Linked DNA regions of Homo sapiens: region 1 is linked to region 2. A link means that fine-mapping ties the variant in region 2 to the plasma level of a protein whose gene starts in the linked region. Region 2 holds a variant in brackets. A gene starts in the other region. All regions are shown on their forward strands.

What was found. PIP is the posterior inclusion probability: the model's chance that the variant is causal. The UK Biobank Pharma Proteomics Project read protein levels with antibody pairs (Olink). The fine-mapping took linkage between variants from a reference panel, not from the people measured, so its PIPs are less certain.
Region 1: ESM1 starts here. The variant in region 2 is fine-mapped to the plasma level of the ESM1 protein (UK Biobank, PIP above 0.99).

What each region holds. Positions count from the first base shown.
Region 1 is chr5:54,984,114-54,987,025 of GRCh38, forward strand. It overlaps ESM1 (endothelial cell specific molecule 1), which reads right to left and starts at 1,480. Exons shown (of 3, transcript NM_007036.5): 1 at 1,104-1,480. The coding sequence starts at 1,404.
Region 2 is chr9:134,203,560-134,206,452 of GRCh38, forward strand. It overlaps LOC124902298 (a long non-coding RNA gene), which reads left to right. Exons shown (of 3, transcript XR_007061835.1): 2 at 1,457-1,632; 3 at 2,792-2,893. Among named protein-coding and RNA genes, the nearest start is that of RNU6ATAC, 40 kb to the left of the region's middle. RefSeq lists enhancers at 164-665, 666-1,165. The variant A/G (reference allele first, on the strand shown) is at 1,251.

The sequences.
Region 1 (2,912 bases), not on the chromosome of region 2:
AAATTAAAAGATGATTAATTTATACATTATATGTCTAAGAAGTAGGAGAATTAATGAGATTAGCACAATACTGGATAAATATTATTCATAAAAAATGTATTAAATACATAAAACATAATAATTATTTAGAAATTTCTCAGTCCTTTTTATAATTTTGAAAGCTTCCTGGTATTACACAACTGATGGATGGGGTTATAGCATGTGTTGCTTCTTAATAATAGCTCTTCATAATAAGATCATGAGATATCTATACGTAGAGTATTTTTAAATCATCATTCTTTTTATTCTAAACATTTTTAAAATGTTAAATATTTTAAACTAGTTACTATGTTTAAAATAAATTCTACAAATGCTTAACTACATTATTTAGCTAAAATTTCAACCGACGAAGTTTTTCTTTAAGTGTACAAGTGGTCAACCTCATTCTTTACAGACTTCCAGTTTTTATTTTTCTCTATTGTTATTTTTCCTTGTCTTAACACCATCTGCTATTTTTCCAGATGACCAAAACCTTTATAAAGTCAGATGAGGTTTGTTTTATGCTTCAGGGGACCCTCTTTGAAGAGTGAGTTATTTTGTTAGATGACTTAAGCTCACTCTATTCCATAAAGTGCATTTGTGTTTATCAGAAATATTTGATCTTGAGAGTGGCCCTCCATCCTGTGGACCCTTTCAAGATCAAAGAATCACTAAATCTGGGGGCTAGAAACCATTCCAAGAGGTTATCTAGTGCAGACCTTTGTAATCGCTGCCTCGCAGAGGAGAGAGCACCTAAGCCATCCTTAACAGATTACCTGTCAAGTTTCTAAAGTTTTCCAGAAAAGGAGCCAACACAATCTTCCATTGCAGCTTTCTTTTTGCGATCTCCTAAGGCAACGAGTAAAATGCCACACTTCTTTCTGTGCCTTCCTGCACACTGGTTTCAGTTGCTACTTGGAGCTATCCTTCAGTCTCTACCCATGACAATACCTGTGTGGTGCCTTGTCAAGAATCCACCTGCCTTTTCCCTCTTACTCTTGAGGAGCAAAGCCACCTCACCTCCCAAGCTGGCTAAAAGCTCTCAGCATGCCCCGGGAGGGGAGAGGTAAGGGGTCACTCTTTACCTTTGCAGATACCAAACTCTTCACCAAAAGGATCCTCCCCATTAGAAGGCTGACACCTCAGCCCCGGGCCACACTTCATGCCATCCATGCCTGAGACTGTGCGGTAGCAAGTTTCTCCCCGCCCTGCAGCGCACACTCGGCAGCAGCCACAGTCGTCGAGCACTGTCCTCTTGCAGCGCGGGCTGCTTTTGCACTCACTGCTGTCACAGTGTTGAGGGCAGTCCACCGCATAATTATTGCTCCAGGCGGCCACCAGGTGTGCAGGCACGAGGAGCGTGGTCAGCAGCAAGACGCTCTTCATGTTTCCCAGCTGCCTCCGGCTCGGCTCTCCAGTCGTGGTCTTTGCTGGTGGGAAGCAGCCGTCCAAACTGGTAGCTGAGCCTCTGCCTACACGTTTATGAGTTTTATACACTGGGTTGCCCGCATGCTTTCCCGTCATCAATTTCCTCAACCCAGCAGCAGCGCTGTCCTCCTGCCAGGCTCTCTTGTTTTGGTTTATGAAATCCAGGATGAAGGCTGGATTAACACGCTGCTGCCATCCAGGAATTGAAAAGCCCAAGCTGATGTCATCTGTTATGTTTAGATGGTTGTTTTGCATGAGGACTGAAAAACTCACTCACATCCGTCTCAAGGGCTCAAGGACGTCTGTGAAGGAGGGATAAAGAAGGTTGCACACCCTCCTTCAGGACGGGAATTGTTCTGACCCTGGCATATCACTTGAGGTGTAGCTTTGTCTCAGAGCCTCTGTAGTCAGGAGGAAAATGATATCAACATGAATCATCAGGACCGAAGAAGCTTCTTCAAAAAAAATAATAAACATTTGGTATTTCCCCTCAACAAATAGCTATGAGATCATTTGAAAGAAGAAAGGGTTATATTGTGTCTTTTCAATACTTAGAAGAAAGAAAATATTTTGATAGGGCTATTTTTTAAGACCCTCTCTTCCTTCCTCTCACCCCTCTCCTCAAATGTTATTTCTAAAGCAATTCATGTTACATATATCTAAGCCTATTGTGGATATAGCTGTGCTTCCAGTACAATGTGGAACTGCCTCTGAGAATTTCTTTTAAAATCAATACAAAAAGCCACAAGAGAGGTAAGATCCTTTCGGCACTGCTTCTGGGTTACTCAATTCTGGAAAAACTTATCAGTTGGACTTCTGATCCAAAACTTCCTCAGGGGAAGGCTCATCCATCACTAAGTCTGCTTGTCCAATGACGGAGTCCACCCAGAGCCCTTCCCCTCACCTCCTGGCATCTATCAGAGCCCTCACTAAAAACTGCCAAGCGCGGCAGCCAGCCCAAGGCAACAAGTGGCTCAGCAGGAAAATCAGAACACAGCCCCCAAGAAACAAGTCACAGGGAAGGGAAACATTACCCCTCAGGAAACAAGGTCTGCATGCTAAGAGGGTTACCGTGCCTAGGTCCCTCTGGGAAAACAGAGTAGCCCTCTTAAAATATCAACTGTGCCAGGGTCTTATTAAGTAAGGTTAAAGAGGAGAGAGGGGAGTTCTTACACCAACCACATGCCGAATTCCATGCCCCCACCTCACTTGTCAAAAGAGATATAGACTCACTGTCACTTAGTAAATAACAACCCAGTAAAGTGGGTAATTCTTGGTCTGTCACAAATGAGCTGTAAGAAATTCACAGGACTTCTCTTGGCCTCAGCTTCCTCTTTTGAGAATTGATGGTGTTAGGCTACCTGACCTCTAAAATTCTTGTTTCCCATAGAAGATGAGGCAGAGCGGGCATTGGATGTAACTTGAAGATCGGCTTTTGCAAATGCAATTTTAGGGGGACACAGGGA
Region 2 (2,893 bases):
TAGGAAGTTTTTTTCTTTTAAAATTACTGATTAAATTCATGGAATGGTTATAGGACTACTTAGTTTTTCTATTTCTATTAGTTTTCTATTCCTTCTTGAGCTTGTGTCAATGAGTTATGTATTTGTTCTTAAGAATTTGCCCATTTTGTCCAATTTCATACAATTTTTGGATATATTGATATATTATTCATTTTTCAATAGATGTGAGACTTTATGTCATTATGGAACACAATGTTATTTTGAAGTGTTTGTCAGATTGCCATACAAAATCAGTTTCTTCCTCTACCATTTCTTCTTGTGTTTTAAAATGTTAGTTTGCTCATTTCGATTGGGAGGAGTTGAGGTTTTTCTTCATCTGGTTTTATATCGTTTGCTCCCTTTCTCTCCCTGATTAGTCTAGAATCAGGTATTAAGGTGGTGTTTCTGCAGTGCTGTGACATGGAGCACAAAGCAGATACGGTCCTGGAGGCAGAAGGCATCTTGGTGAGGCTTCTCATTTTGAGGTTGTGGCATCAGCCCTTCCCTGCTAACCCCACCACCTGCCTCCTCCATAGACTGCAGTGTCCCTAAACTATAACTTCAGCACCAAGGCTGCTGGGCTGTTTTCTTGCCCTCTTTCCCAAGCCTGTGTCCTGGCCCGCACTGGACTCCAGTCCCTGTTGCCCTTTGGGAGTGCTGAGTCCAGATCCTGCCACTCCCAACCTGGAGCCCTGTGGGCTGTGGTGCTCACCCTGCTCCTTCTGTTTCTGATTTGTGAGAGGCTTGTCTTGTTTTCAGCCCAGGCATATGTTCTGGGCCCCCTTGTTTATATTGCACTGATGGCTGCCTTGTGGTGGGGCAGTGGGTGTGAGCAGCTGTGCACCTGCAAGTGTTTTGATCAAAAATCCCTTTGTTTTGAAATGCAATTTGTTCTCTTTGTTGGTCTCAGACTCTCCAATCCAGAGTAGAGAGGTGGCCTTACCTTGACAAGCAAAGGCGCTTAAGAGGGTTTTCTGAGTAACAAAGCATCTTGCTTGCCCTGTAATGAATTCTGCCCCTGCCACCCTGGAATGCAGACATGGCTGTGGGTTTTTAAGCCACGTTTTTCTTTCCTTCTCCTAGATTTCTGTACTTACGCATTTCCACACATGTGACATTTCAAGATGGTGGTGCAGTGGAGTGGCCTCTCTTAGTCACAGGGCTTTTTGCTGGCCCTTCCCTGACTGCTAGTGTCCTCCTCAGCCCTCCTTCCCTGCAGCCTCCTTCCCTGC[A/G]ACCTCCTTCCCTGCGACCTCCCTCACCCTTCCAGTTTCAGCTTAAATACGGCTCCCTCAGAGAAACCCCGAGCAGCCGGACCCTCTTTATACTCCTCTGCACTCTGTCTTTGCCTTCTAGGAGTTCGATGCCCATGTGGGCACCCTGGCCCATCATCCCAGATGGGCTGAATGAAGGACTTGACGTTTCTTTCCCACCTCCCCAGGCCTGCTTCCGTCCCAACACTGCTCCTGTCACAGAGAAAGGACCAGAATAAGACTGACTCTATCCCCTGTCCCCATCGCTGGGCATCTGATCTTCTCCGCGCCCAGTCCAAGGATCGTCTGCATGCCTTCCCTTCTCCCTCTCCCTCTCTGAAGGGAGCGAAGCAGCTCAAATTCGGTATGTGCCCTGTCTCTTTGAGAGGTCCAGTGTGACTTCCTGTTTGAAGATCTTCTAAGTTTATGGAATTTTAGAAACGCTCTGCTAATAAGGCAGAAGTGACCTTTGACCTCCCCTCCCCGCTTCCATCCTGTAACAGGAAGCCAGTGATTCCTTTCTGCCCCACCTACCAGAGGGGCAAGAAAACATCCCTGGGAGGAAGGCCGCTGCCTTTTGCTCTTCATCTTCTATCTGGAAAGTTCCGTGCCCTCTTCCCTGGGGGGATGAGTAAGACGGCACACAGGGCTTGGGAATTTTTAATAAGGGCCAGAGCTCTGCAGGGATGCTTGATGGGGGTGCTCGTTTTCGAGGTGGGGAGGCTGGAGGAGAGGCAGATGCTTCCAGGAGTAACTGTCTGGTTACCAGACTGCAAGACCCACGAAGCCCAATTCTCCACCCAGGGAGGGGCGGTGGGGAAGAGGCCATCAATTTAAGACTTTTATTTACCTTGAACTACTCAGCCAAGCAGACACATTATTTAGGAACTAGAATAAAAAGCCATTCACTTTACTTCAATTGACCATTTAGTTCAATTTGTGTGTTACTGCAGGTAATTACTCCAGTAATAACACGCGGTAATCGGCGCTGATTGGGAGCCGGCCCCGGCTCTGTATTAATACCGCGTGCCATATATACTAATTATCCGTGTGTTACCATGGTTATTTGCATGGACGCCGTGTTAACGACACCCTGGAAACACAAAGCAATAGCGAGTTTTGAATTAAATCTTTGTGTTCTCTTAGAGCTAAAAGTGCATTTCACATAAAATAATCATGAATAAAATGAGATCATCTTGGCGGAGTTGCCAGGAAGCTGATTAACTGAACTGCGTAAATGTGACTTTATCCCACTCAAGAATTAGAGCCTCCCAAACGTTGTCGGGGTTGCTAGGCAACCCCCCGAGATGACATCACTCACACAAGCCACGCTGCGGCGATGTCATCTCTACATATTTATAGCGCCTCTGCAGAGAGGGTGTGCATTATGGAAATGACATGATTTTTCTCCCGGTTGATGGGTATGAATGGCCGTCAGACCTCTGAGGGCTGTGGAGAAAGAGAATTTGGGAATACCTGTGTGACACTTTCCTGGGGTGTGACAGATGCTTTATTTCCACCAGGTTACCCTAATGGGTCCAAATGAAAAGGCGTGTGTCACAGCTGATGAGTCGTCTGAGAGCTTGGTCAGTGGAGGCCGCCATCTTCCTGCCTGTGCACAGCAG